Linked DNA regions of Homo sapiens. The protein of the gene in region 2 interacts with the protein of the main gene of each other region in a pairwise test. Each region holds a gene or a part of one and is shown on either strand. Other genes may lie near its edges.

Region 1 (3,656 bases), about 43 Mb from region 2:
GGGCAGCTGGGAAACCTAGAGAATGACTAGATGTCTGCTCTACTTTTTCTATTTTTTAAATTCTATTTCTTTTTTTCACCCTTAAATGTACTATAAATTGTACTTCTTATGTTTATTGTCTGTTTCATCTTACCAGATGTACATGCTACCACCCCAAATAGATCTTTGTCTGTTTTGTTCTCTGATACATCTCAAGTGCTTAGAACAATGTTTTGCACATAGTAGTCACTCAGTATTTATCAAAGGGATATAAAAGCGCATTGATTTTGTGTTTTGTGACTCTTAAGTTGTATAACTGGTAAGCCTGTTTTCTCTTCCTAACAGTACAAACAGGCCGTCCATGAGCTTGTGCGTTGCGTAGCACTGACAAGAATTTGCTATGGAGACTCACATTGGAAACTAGCAGAGGCACATGTTAATCTGGCTCAAGGCTACCTCCAGCTGAAAGGTAAGCTCGCCTTAGACTGAGGGGGATCAGTTGGTCGATTTCTGCTGTTCTCCCCAAAATTTGATTCACACTTAATTAGAAGGATCAGGTTTTTTAATATTCTCCTTTCTAAATACCAAGAAGCCATTTCTTTTTAGAAAGAGTTGATAAGGTATATAACCTGTAAACATTCAAAGGGGAAAAATGGAAAAAATATTTTAACTTTTCTGGTTTTTTTGTTTTTGTTTTTGTTTTTATGATTTCAAAAGTAAGGTTCTTAGGAGAAAATTAATCTGTTGGGCCAGAAGACTTTGTAGGAAAAAACCCAAGGTATGGAATAGGGGCCCAGAATGGGATCCATTCACACTTTTATTGGAGAATCTCTTGACTGTAAATAACCAAAAAATTTAAAAAGACTAACCCAAATTGGCATAAACAAAAGTTTTTGGCTCATACAACTTAAAAATTCAAGGGAAAAAATTTTTAGACTTAGCCATATCCAGTGTTCAAACAATGTGACCAGGATTCAATTTTTCTCTCTCCCACTGCTTGGCTCTGTTTTTCTTGGTATTTGCTCCATTCTTTGCCAGGTTTTGCCCACATGGTGGCAACAAGACTGCCTGCAACTTTAGACTTCCCTTATAAGCATTCCCAGGAGGAAAAGAATGTCCCTCCACCAAAATCCCGGGATTTGGGAAGGGTTCTAATTGGAACAACTTGGGTTGTATACCAAAGGCAAGGAATAGTCTGATTGGCTAAACCTTTCTTTTGGCTTCATTGGATCCTGAAGGAGAAGCAGGCCTTCGCCACATCTCATGGATTGGATGTGCAGGAGCCAGGCATCCCAAAAGGGAAACAGAGGGGAGAATGCGTGCAGGGGAGGCAAAAACAATAGACACCCAGGATATGATGATGGCTTCTACTTACTGACTGTGCAGCCTAAGACAAGATGGACAAGAGCATCTCTGTGCTCAGCTTCTTCAGCTGAAAAGTGATGATGATGGTAATGGTGATGCTAACTTTCCAGGGTTGGCCCAGTGAATAAAGAAAATAATAGAAGTGGAAAACACCAAATGCCAAGCATATTCTATACCAAGCGTATTCATTATTGCCACCCAATAAATTTGGCCAAATCTGATTATAGACTGGTCCTACCTATTAGATCAAAGGCTCTTAGGGACCTTGGAGATTATCTAATTTAAACTCTGCCCTCCCACCCCATTTTGTAGATTCAGGGAAAACAATGAGTCTGAGTTAGAACAGCTTTCCCCATACCACACTGTTAATAAGTAGCTGATCTGAGACTCAGACCTAGGTTTTCAATGCCAGTTTGTCCTGCCATCTGGGGTTTCAGACGATGCTTTTCTTATACAGCCTGCTGCCTCTCTGCGTGACAGTCCTTCTTTCTCAATTTAAAGTAAAAGTAGTATCTACCATTTATTAAAGTCTCATTTGGTGCCAGGCATGTTGTTTTCCATGCATAACCTTATTCAGTCCTCACCACAGTCCTCAAAGGTGGGTATTTTTAATATCCCTGTTTACAGCTGAGAAAGCTGAGGCCAACGTTTTATAATAAGTGGTGGAGCAGGGGATCCATCCTGGGCAGTCTGACTTCAGAGCCAATGTTCTTGAACTTCACCCTATGCTGCCTCCAGTAAATTGAGTTCAGGTTCCTTCAGGGACTCGACACAGTTGAAAATACAGTCCAACATGCTTTGTGTAACATCACAAGCACAGGTGGCACTAATACATGTCTGTGCTTTTTAAAAATATGTAATAAGACAATCTTGTGTAAGAATTCCCACATGAAACACATACCCTTGATTTTCTCCATTAGAAAATATATTCTTCCTGTTTTATAGACATAGGAACAGAATTAACTTCATATTTTGACAGATTTTTTTAGAGATCTAAGATACAATTTTGTGTAACTAAGAACATAAGATGGGGGCTGTGTGTATGTGAGTGGAAGTGGTTGTCGGTGTAGGGGAGGAGGATGGGAATACAGGGACGTGCAAAGCCCTGAAGCCGTGCTAGCGATCTCAGTCCTCCCTTCCCACAGATTAACAAGCCCGTGGAGGAACACTGGAACACACTGGGGAATTCTTTCTTAGTAGTGATTTTTTTTTGCTCCACTTTGTTTCATATTAGTCTCTTACCACATAGGAAGATGAAATTGTCACACATTAATCTGTTACCTCACTGGAATTGTGTTTGTAAGTTTTTGTAGATATCAGATATGTATTATGTTAAAAAAATAACTCTCTGACATTATGATTATAGGTGGGTGAGCTGAAGATTCAGAATTTTTAGTATTTCATTAAGATTGCAGTTACACAGCCAGGATTAAAATTCATGAATATTTTATTTCCTGCTCAGAATGCTATAGTTCTTGTATTCAGTTTGTTTCTTATAATTATATGTAACATATTTTGCTTCTGCTATTGGTGAGGTTTCAAAGCTGTTCAATTCCAGCTCATTTTGTTTATTTCTAAAAAGGCCATTTGGGGGAAAATTTATCTTGGGTACTTGGTATAAAACACTTCTTTGGTTGTTACAGTCATGGCAGTGTTTCATGCTGCCCAGATACGTCTCCATGTGTCATTTGACAATATGTGAAGGAGACCTTGTTAGATTCCCAGACCATAAGGAACTGTATTCCTGTCCAGTTGAGATGATAGAGAAACTGAGACCTCTTTTTCTTTGTCCACAGGACTGTCACTGCAAGCAAAACAACATGCAGAAAAAGCCAGACAAATCCTCGCCAACTCCATTGTGCCTCCCTATAGTGAGAATACAGATGTTTTCAAGTTTTCCATTGAGCTTTTCCATACCATGGGCAGAGCTTTACTCTCCCTTCAAAAGTATCCTTTTGCCTCTAACTTTTACAAATAGAAATACTATTCACGTAACACTTACACGCCAAGTAAAAAGCTGATGCTGATGGATGACTTAGGAAGTGTGATTGGAAGTATGGGAGCCAAGGAAGTTCAGGACATGGGGTGTAGAATCTAGAACCAAGTGGAAAATTTCCTGAACACAATTCAGATTTAAGGAAGCTGCAGAGAATTTGACAAAAGCAGAGAGACTTTCAAAGGAGCTGCTACAATGTGGAAGAATTATAAAGGAAGAATGGATAGAAATTGAAGCACGGATCAGATTATCATTTGCACAGTAAGTTTCAAGTTTAGGATTTTGCATACATGATGGCGGGAGGCTCTTTGCCTGT
Region 2 (3,656 bases):
TTCAACATAGTGTTGGAAGTTCTGGCCAGGGCAGTCAGGCAGGAGAAAGAAAGAAAGGGTATTCAATTAGGAAAAGAGGAAGTCAAATTGTCCTTGTTTGCAGATGACATGATTGTATATTTAGAAAACCCCATTGTCTCAGCCCCAAATCTCCTTAAGCTGATAAGCAACTTCAGCAAAGTCTCAGGATACAAAATCAATGTACAAAAATCACAAGCATTCTTATACACCAATAACAGACAGACAGAGAGCCAAATCATGAGTGAACTCGATTCACAATTGCTTCAAAGAGAATAAAATACCTAGGAATCCAACTTACAAGGGATGTGAAGGACCTCTTCAAGGAGAACTGCAAACCACTGCTCAACGAAATAAAAGACGACACAAACAAATGGAAGAACATTCCATGCTCATGGATAGGAAGAATCAATATCGTGAAAATGGCCATACTGCCCAAGGTAATTTACAGATTCAATGCCATCCACATCAAGCTACCAATGACTTTCTTCACAGAATTGGAAAAAACTACTTTAAAATTCATATGGAACCAAAAAAGGGGCCACATTGCCAAGACAATCCTAAGCCAAAAGAACAAAGCTGGAGGCATCATGCTACCTGAATTCAAACTATACTACAAGGCTACAGTAACCAAAACAGCATGGTACTGCTACCAAAACAGAGATATAGACCAATGGAACAGAACAGAGCCCTCAGAAATAGTACCACACATCTACAACCATCTGCTCTTTTTTTTTGTTACAAAAAAGACAGGTTTGTTACAAACCTGACAAAAACAAGCAATAGGGAAAGGAGTCCCTGTTTAATAAATGGTGCTGGAAAAACTGGCTAGCCATAGGTAGAAAGCTGAAACTGGATCCCTTCCTTACACCTTATACAAAAATTAATTCAGGATGGATTAAAGACTTACATGTTAGACCTAAAACCATAAAAACCCTAGAAGAAAACCTAGGCAATACCATTCAGGACATAGGCATGGGCAAGGACTTCATGTCTAAAACACCAAAAGCAATGGCAACAAAAGCCAAAATTGACAAATGGGATCTAATTAAACTAAAGAGCTTCCGCACAGCAAAAGAAACTACCATCAGAGTGAACAGCCAACCTACAGAATGGGAGAAAATTTTTGCAATCTACCCATCTGACCAAGGGGTAATATCCAGAATCTAAAAAGAACTCAAATTTACAAGAAAAAATCAAACAACCCCATCAAAAAGTGGGCGAAGGATATGAATAGACACTTCTCAAAAGAAGACATTTATGCAGCCAACAGACAAGAACAGGAAAGGTGATGTCTACTCTCATCACTCTTCTTCAACATAGCACTAGCCAGTGGTGCTGGAAATTTTAGCCAGCATGTAAGGCAAGGAAAGGAAGTAAAAAGTATACAGATCAGAAAGGAAGAAACAGCCTGTAGCTCTGGGCAGAAGACATGCCTGACTATGTAGGGAAAAAAAATCCTACAGCTAACAAGTGAATTCAGCAAGGTTGTGAGATACAAGATAAACACAAAAATATCAATTCACTAGCAACGAGTACACGGACACCAAAATAAAAGCTAACATTCCATTTACGATTGCTCAAAAAATGAAACACTTAGATGTAACAAAACACGTACAGGATTTGTATGCTGAAACTAGAGAATCCTGATGAAAAAATTCAAAGATCTAAATAAAGGGAGAGCCAAATTGTGTTCATGAACTTAATATAGTGAATTTATCAATTCTCCCCAAACTGATATTCAAATTTAATTCAATACCTATCAAAATCCCAGCAAAAAATATTTATAGAGACAAGATTCTTCAAAAATTCATATGGAAAGGCAAAGGAACTAGAATAGCTAAAAAAAAAATTTTAAGACTTGCCATATAGCTGCAGTATTCAAAACTGTGTAGTATTGGTGGAGGGATGGATACATAGACCAACAGAACAAAATAGAGACCACAGGAATAGACCCATACAAACATGCCAACTGTGTTTTAAGAAAGGTGCAAAAGCAATTCAATGTTGGAGAAACAGCCATTTCAACAAATGGTGTGGAACAACTGAACTAAATCCAATGGCAAAAACTGTATTTAAGTCTCATCGTTTGTACCAAAAATTAACTCAAAACAGATCACAGATTGAAATGTAAAATGGAAAAGCATAAAAAAAAAAAACCCAAAAAAACAAAACACACACACACACACAAACCTTTAGGAAAAAAAAAAGGAGAAATTCTTCAATAACTAGGCGAAGAGTTTCTAGAGTTGACACAGAAAGCATGATCCATAAAAAGAAAAACTGATAAACTGAACTTCATAGAAATGGAGAACATTTGCTCTAAGAAAAATCGTGCTCTAAGATCATGTTAAAAGGATGAGAAGATAAAGCTACAGACTAGAAGAAACTATTTGCTAACCACCCACCTGACAAAGGACTAGTATCTAGAATATATGAAGAACTCTCAAAACCCAACAATAAATGAACAAACAACCCAATTAGAGAATCAGCAAAAGACATGAAGAACTATTTCATCAAAGAGGATCTTACACCAAAGAGGACAGCAAATAAGCACATGAAAAGATGTTCAGCATCATTAGTCATCAGGAAAATGCAAAATAAAACTACAAGGTATCACTACATGGATATTTAAAAGTGGCTAAAATAAAAAATTGTTGAGCTTCTGAGGACAGAGGAGAAAAAAATTAAAAAATAAACTGTGTTAACACCAAATGCTGGTGAGAATGCAGACAGACTGCGTAACTCATATATTTCTGATGGGAATGTTAAATGCTACAGCTGTTCTGGAAATCACTTTGGCAGTCTGTTACACAGCTAACATGCAGTTACCACAAAACCCAGCTAATACAATCTTGAGCATTTATTGCAGAGAAATGAAAATTGATGTTTATACAAAAACCTTTACCTGAATGTTTACATCAGATTTACTCATCAGAGCTAAATATTGGAAGCATTCCAAATGCCCTTTAATGGGCAAATGGTCAAATAAAATGGTATATACATGCCAATGGAATGTTACTCAGCAAAAAAAGGGAACAAATGATCAATACAAGCAACTTGGATGAATTTCCAGGAAATTATGCTGAATAAAAAAAAGCCAACTTGAAAAAGTTACATATTGTTTGATATCATTTATATAACATTCCTGAGGCACATACTTTTAAATTTATAATTAAAGGTTTATCCATGTTTTAGCATGATCAGTCTGTCATTCTTTTAATAGCTGAATAACATTTTATTACATGGATATACTATATTTTGTTTATCCATTAGACATTTGGGTTATTTCTACTTTTGGGTTATTTCTACTTTTAGACTATTGTGAATAATGCTGCATAAACATTTGTGTATGGGTTTGGGTAGACACAGGCTCATTAATTTTTAACCATTCTTTTTTCTAATATATGCATTTAAAGATATAAACTTTCCTCTAAGCACTGCATTAACTGCACGTCACATATTTTGGAATGCTGTTTTTTGAATCATTTAGTTTGAAATATTTTTCTAATTTCCAATATTATTTATTCCCCTTTTCTCATTGCTTATTTAGAAATATATTGTTTAATTATAATATATTTAAGGAGTCTGCAGGTATATTTTCATTACTGATTTTTAATTTAATTCCACTGTAGTCA
Region 3 (3,656 bases), on a different chromosome or scaffold from region 2:
CCTTTGTGTGCAAGCATGCCTGGTATCTCTTTGTGTGTCCAATTTCCTCTTTTTATAAAGACACAAGTCAGATTAGGTTAGGGCCCACCCTAATGGCCTCATTCTAACTTAATCACCACTCTACAGGCCCTAGCTCCAATTATAGTCATGTGACAGACTGCAGGATAGGGCTTCAACACATGAATTTTGGCAGGGGACACAGTTCAGCCCATAACATCCACAGATGCCAAGAGTCTGGCCACATAATAGGAGGGTTAAGAATGATGTATGGATATACTACTGAATAAATAAAGGAGGTTACCAAAACCTGCCACTATTATTATGTATAGTGTTGAGTATTATTGAGTATTGAGCATCTCAATCACTCTAAAAAATTAGCCCCTTATTATAAGCCATAAATCTCTAAACATAAGATCCATCCATTTTAGTGTTATGACACTTTGATAGTGGCCTTAGAACAATGCAGAGTTAAAGTTTTTTGTGATATTAGCTAAACAGGATAATTCTGGAAGGGAAAATGAGATGTTTCTCTCAAAATTAACTCAACTAGGAAGGCAGAAAGTTTCAGATTGTCCTGAGACATGCTAGCTTTGCTAAAGTAAAGTTTTATTAGAACTGTAAAAACAATACTCATTTATTCATCTGATAACTCTATATTGAGCATTCATCTATGCCAAGCGCTGAACTAAGATGAAAATACACATGTTCCTGGGCCTTAAGGAACTCATAGTCCAGAGTTTGCTTTCTTATATCACTTATGTGGGGCTTCACGTCCACTCTAATACAGGCAGGCTCACTATGTGCCTTTAACTGGGTCATTAGGTGTTGGCCTTATCCCCAGGGCCATCTACATCCACCTTTGCCTTTAACTTTAGACTGTCTCAGATAGTCTGTTTCTCTCTTCCACAGAAGTATTTGATTGAATTCTGCTACACCATAGCCCAGAAATACCTCTTTGAAGGGAAACACGAAGATGCTGTACCAGCAGCTTTGCAGTCCCTTCGCTTCCGTGTGAAGCTGTATGGCCTGAGCTCCGTAGAGCTTGTGCCTGCTTACCTGCTGTTGGCCGAGGCCAGCCTTGGTGAGTGAAACCGACTTGAGATCCTTGGATCCCTTAAGTGGTGTTATGTTTGGGTCACACCAATGATCAAAGAGTCACCCTTGACAGTGGCACCAAGAGACCTATTGTAGAAGGAGCAGGGTTGCTGTAAAGTTTAGCACAAGGTAGGGAAGGAGATGTCACAGACTTTTGTCTACAACTGGCAGAAATCCACTCAAGCTGGCCTGCACAAAAAGGAGGAACTTTGTGCGGGTGCTGTAGTATCCTACAGGAGCTGAGGCTTCATGAGGGACTAGAATTGGAGTGCCTTTCGTTCTCTCTTGGGCCTTGTCTCCTGTATCTACTTCTCTCTGGGTATCTATCTGCTTTGCTATTTTCCCTCTCTGCAGACCAGATTTGTCTACCCTATGCTCACTGTAGAAGACAGCTACCCCAAAATGTCAGATGGAGTTTTTCAGTTTACGTGTTTTCTAGGTTTGAAGTAGGCAGTAGAAACTAATTAGCTTCTGATTTCCAAATACAAATTCGTAGAAGACAGAATTTTGTTGACATGGCTTGAGTGTGGAATCCACCTTTATTCCCTGGGATCAGAGCCACATAGTTCAGAAATACAGGAACCCACCCCTATAGATGGGAGAGGCAATTCTGAGAGTATAGAGCAGACTTAGCAGATACCCTACATGGTGGCCACCATTTAAAAAAATGCTTCATATGTTTTAATAGCCACCATTAAAAAAATACTTTTTTAAAAGTAAAACTTTTTTAAAAGTAAAACTGTTAAAATTAAGTACAATATAAAGAACTTTTATCCCCTGAGTTCTCTGAGAGTAAGTTGTTCACCTGATTCCCTATCCTTAGAATACTTCAGTGTCCCCTTAGTAAATGAGATATATTGTATTGTGGTTATGAAGGAGAATGTCTTTGTGGGAACCACACAAGGGGACCCTGTCATCTAAGAAGACCCCATTCAAGTTTCTCGAATTTTCCCAATAACATCTTTATAGCAAAAGGATACAGTTCAGGGTCACACTTTTCATTTTGTTGCCATGTGTTGGCAACAAAACTCTGGAATAGTTTCTCAACCTTTTCTTGACTTTTATGATCTTGACACTTTTACAGGTTACAGGCCAATTGTATAAAACATTTCTCAATTTGAGTTTGTCTGATATTTCCTAATGATGGGACTCACGTTATGGATTTTTGGCAAAAACAGTACAGAGGTGATGCTGTGTTCTCATCCCATCCTATAAACTGGCATGTTTTCATTTTTTTCATTACTGATGATGTTCATTTTAATTACTTTATTAGGATGGCGTCTGCCAGTCTTCCTCCCTGTAATGTTACTCTTTCACCCTTCTGTAATTAATAACTTTAATTTTCATTTCATGGATACGTCCTTTGAAACTATATAAATATCCCATTCCTCATCGAATTTTCAATGTATTCATTTAGTTATTTGTATCAGTATTTTATCTTTATTCAATGGGCTTAAATCCATTACTATCGTTAATTTGATCCTCAAACTGTCCCTGATTTGACCAGTGACAAACCCCACTCAAGCTGGCTTCTGCATCTCCCAGATACAACCCCATTTGTTCTTTGCTCACTTGACTGCTTTCTGGAACATACCTCTAAAGAGCCCTGATCTCTTTCAGTGGAAAGTGAAAATCAGAAGCCAAAAGCTGTGCACTAGATGTACTCATGCTTTTGGGGTATTACTGCTCCCAGGCCTTCTCAGTGGAGTTAGGGAGTAAGTGTAAATATAATAATGGGTGTACGTATACACACATTACATCTGTATTTATTTCTATATCTATATATCTTTTTTTTTTTTTTGAGACCGAGTCTCACTCTGTCACCCAGGCTAGAGTGCAGTGGCGCAATCTGAGCTCACTGCAGCCTCCACCTCCCTGGTTCAAGCAATTCTCCTGCCTCAGCCTCCCGAGTAGCTGGGACAACAGGTGTGTGCCACCACGCCTGGCTCATTTTTGTATTTGTAGTAGAGACGGGGTTTCACCATGTTTGTGATCTTGAACTCCTGTCCTCAAGTGATCCACCTGCTTCAGCTTCCCAAAGTGCTGGGATTACAGGTATGAGCCACCGTGTCTGGCCTGTATCTATATATCTACATCAATATCTCTATGACCACTAGTCTATACTGTTTGATCCAGATCTAATACAGCACCATAGGGTTCAATCTGATTTACTTCCATTCCTTAATTGCAACTCCCTTTGCTGACAGCTTTCACTTTCATTGGTTTATTTACATATTAATGAGTTCCCCTGTATGAATCAATCCCCGCTCTCTAACTCCGTCCTTTCCACCTTATAGATACCTCTTCCCGCTCCATGGGCCCTGACTCCCCATTCCAGGCTGCCTCTGCTGCATGGATCCCTCCTCACTTGTGTGGGTTCCAACTCCCCATAACAGGCTGTTTGCCTGCAGGAATGCCCTGCTCACCCTGCCCAGGTCTGACACCCCATTCCAGACTGTCTTTCCTCCAAAGTAATGAGAAAAGCACTGGACAAGAAAATACAGCCCAGGTTCTGTTTACCTCTGACACTGGCTAGCTATGGGATTCTGGAAAAGTCACCC

The links.
Region 1: the proteins of MNS1 (region 2) and TTC23 interact in binary tests that used the Homo sapiens proteins (3 or more experiments, as listed by UniProt).
Region 3: the proteins of MNS1 (region 2) and ZMYND12 interact in binary tests that used the Homo sapiens proteins (3 or more experiments, as listed by UniProt).

Annotation. Positions count from the first base shown.
Region 1 is NC_000015.10:99,218,533-99,222,188, reverse strand, and holds part of TTC23 (tetratricopeptide repeat protein 23), read left to right. Parts: intron 1-324; coding exon 325-448; intron 449-3,140; coding exon 3,141-3,291; intron 3,292-3,475; coding exon 3,476-3,601; intron 3,602-3,656. UniProt on the Homo sapiens protein: Participates positively in the ciliary Hedgehog (Hh) signaling.
Region 2 is NC_000015.10:56,437,587-56,441,242, forward strand, and holds part of MNS1 (meiosis-specific nuclear structural protein 1), read right to left. Parts: intron 1-3,656. UniProt on the Homo sapiens protein: Microtubule inner protein (MIP) part of the dynein-decorated doublet microtubules (DMTs) in cilia axoneme, which is required for motile cilia beating.
Region 3 is NC_000001.11:42,445,892-42,449,547, reverse strand, and holds part of ZMYND12 (zinc finger MYND domain-containing protein 12), read left to right. Parts: intron 1-909; coding exon 910-1,081; intron 1,082-3,656. UniProt on the Homo sapiens protein: Required for sperm flagellum function and male fertility.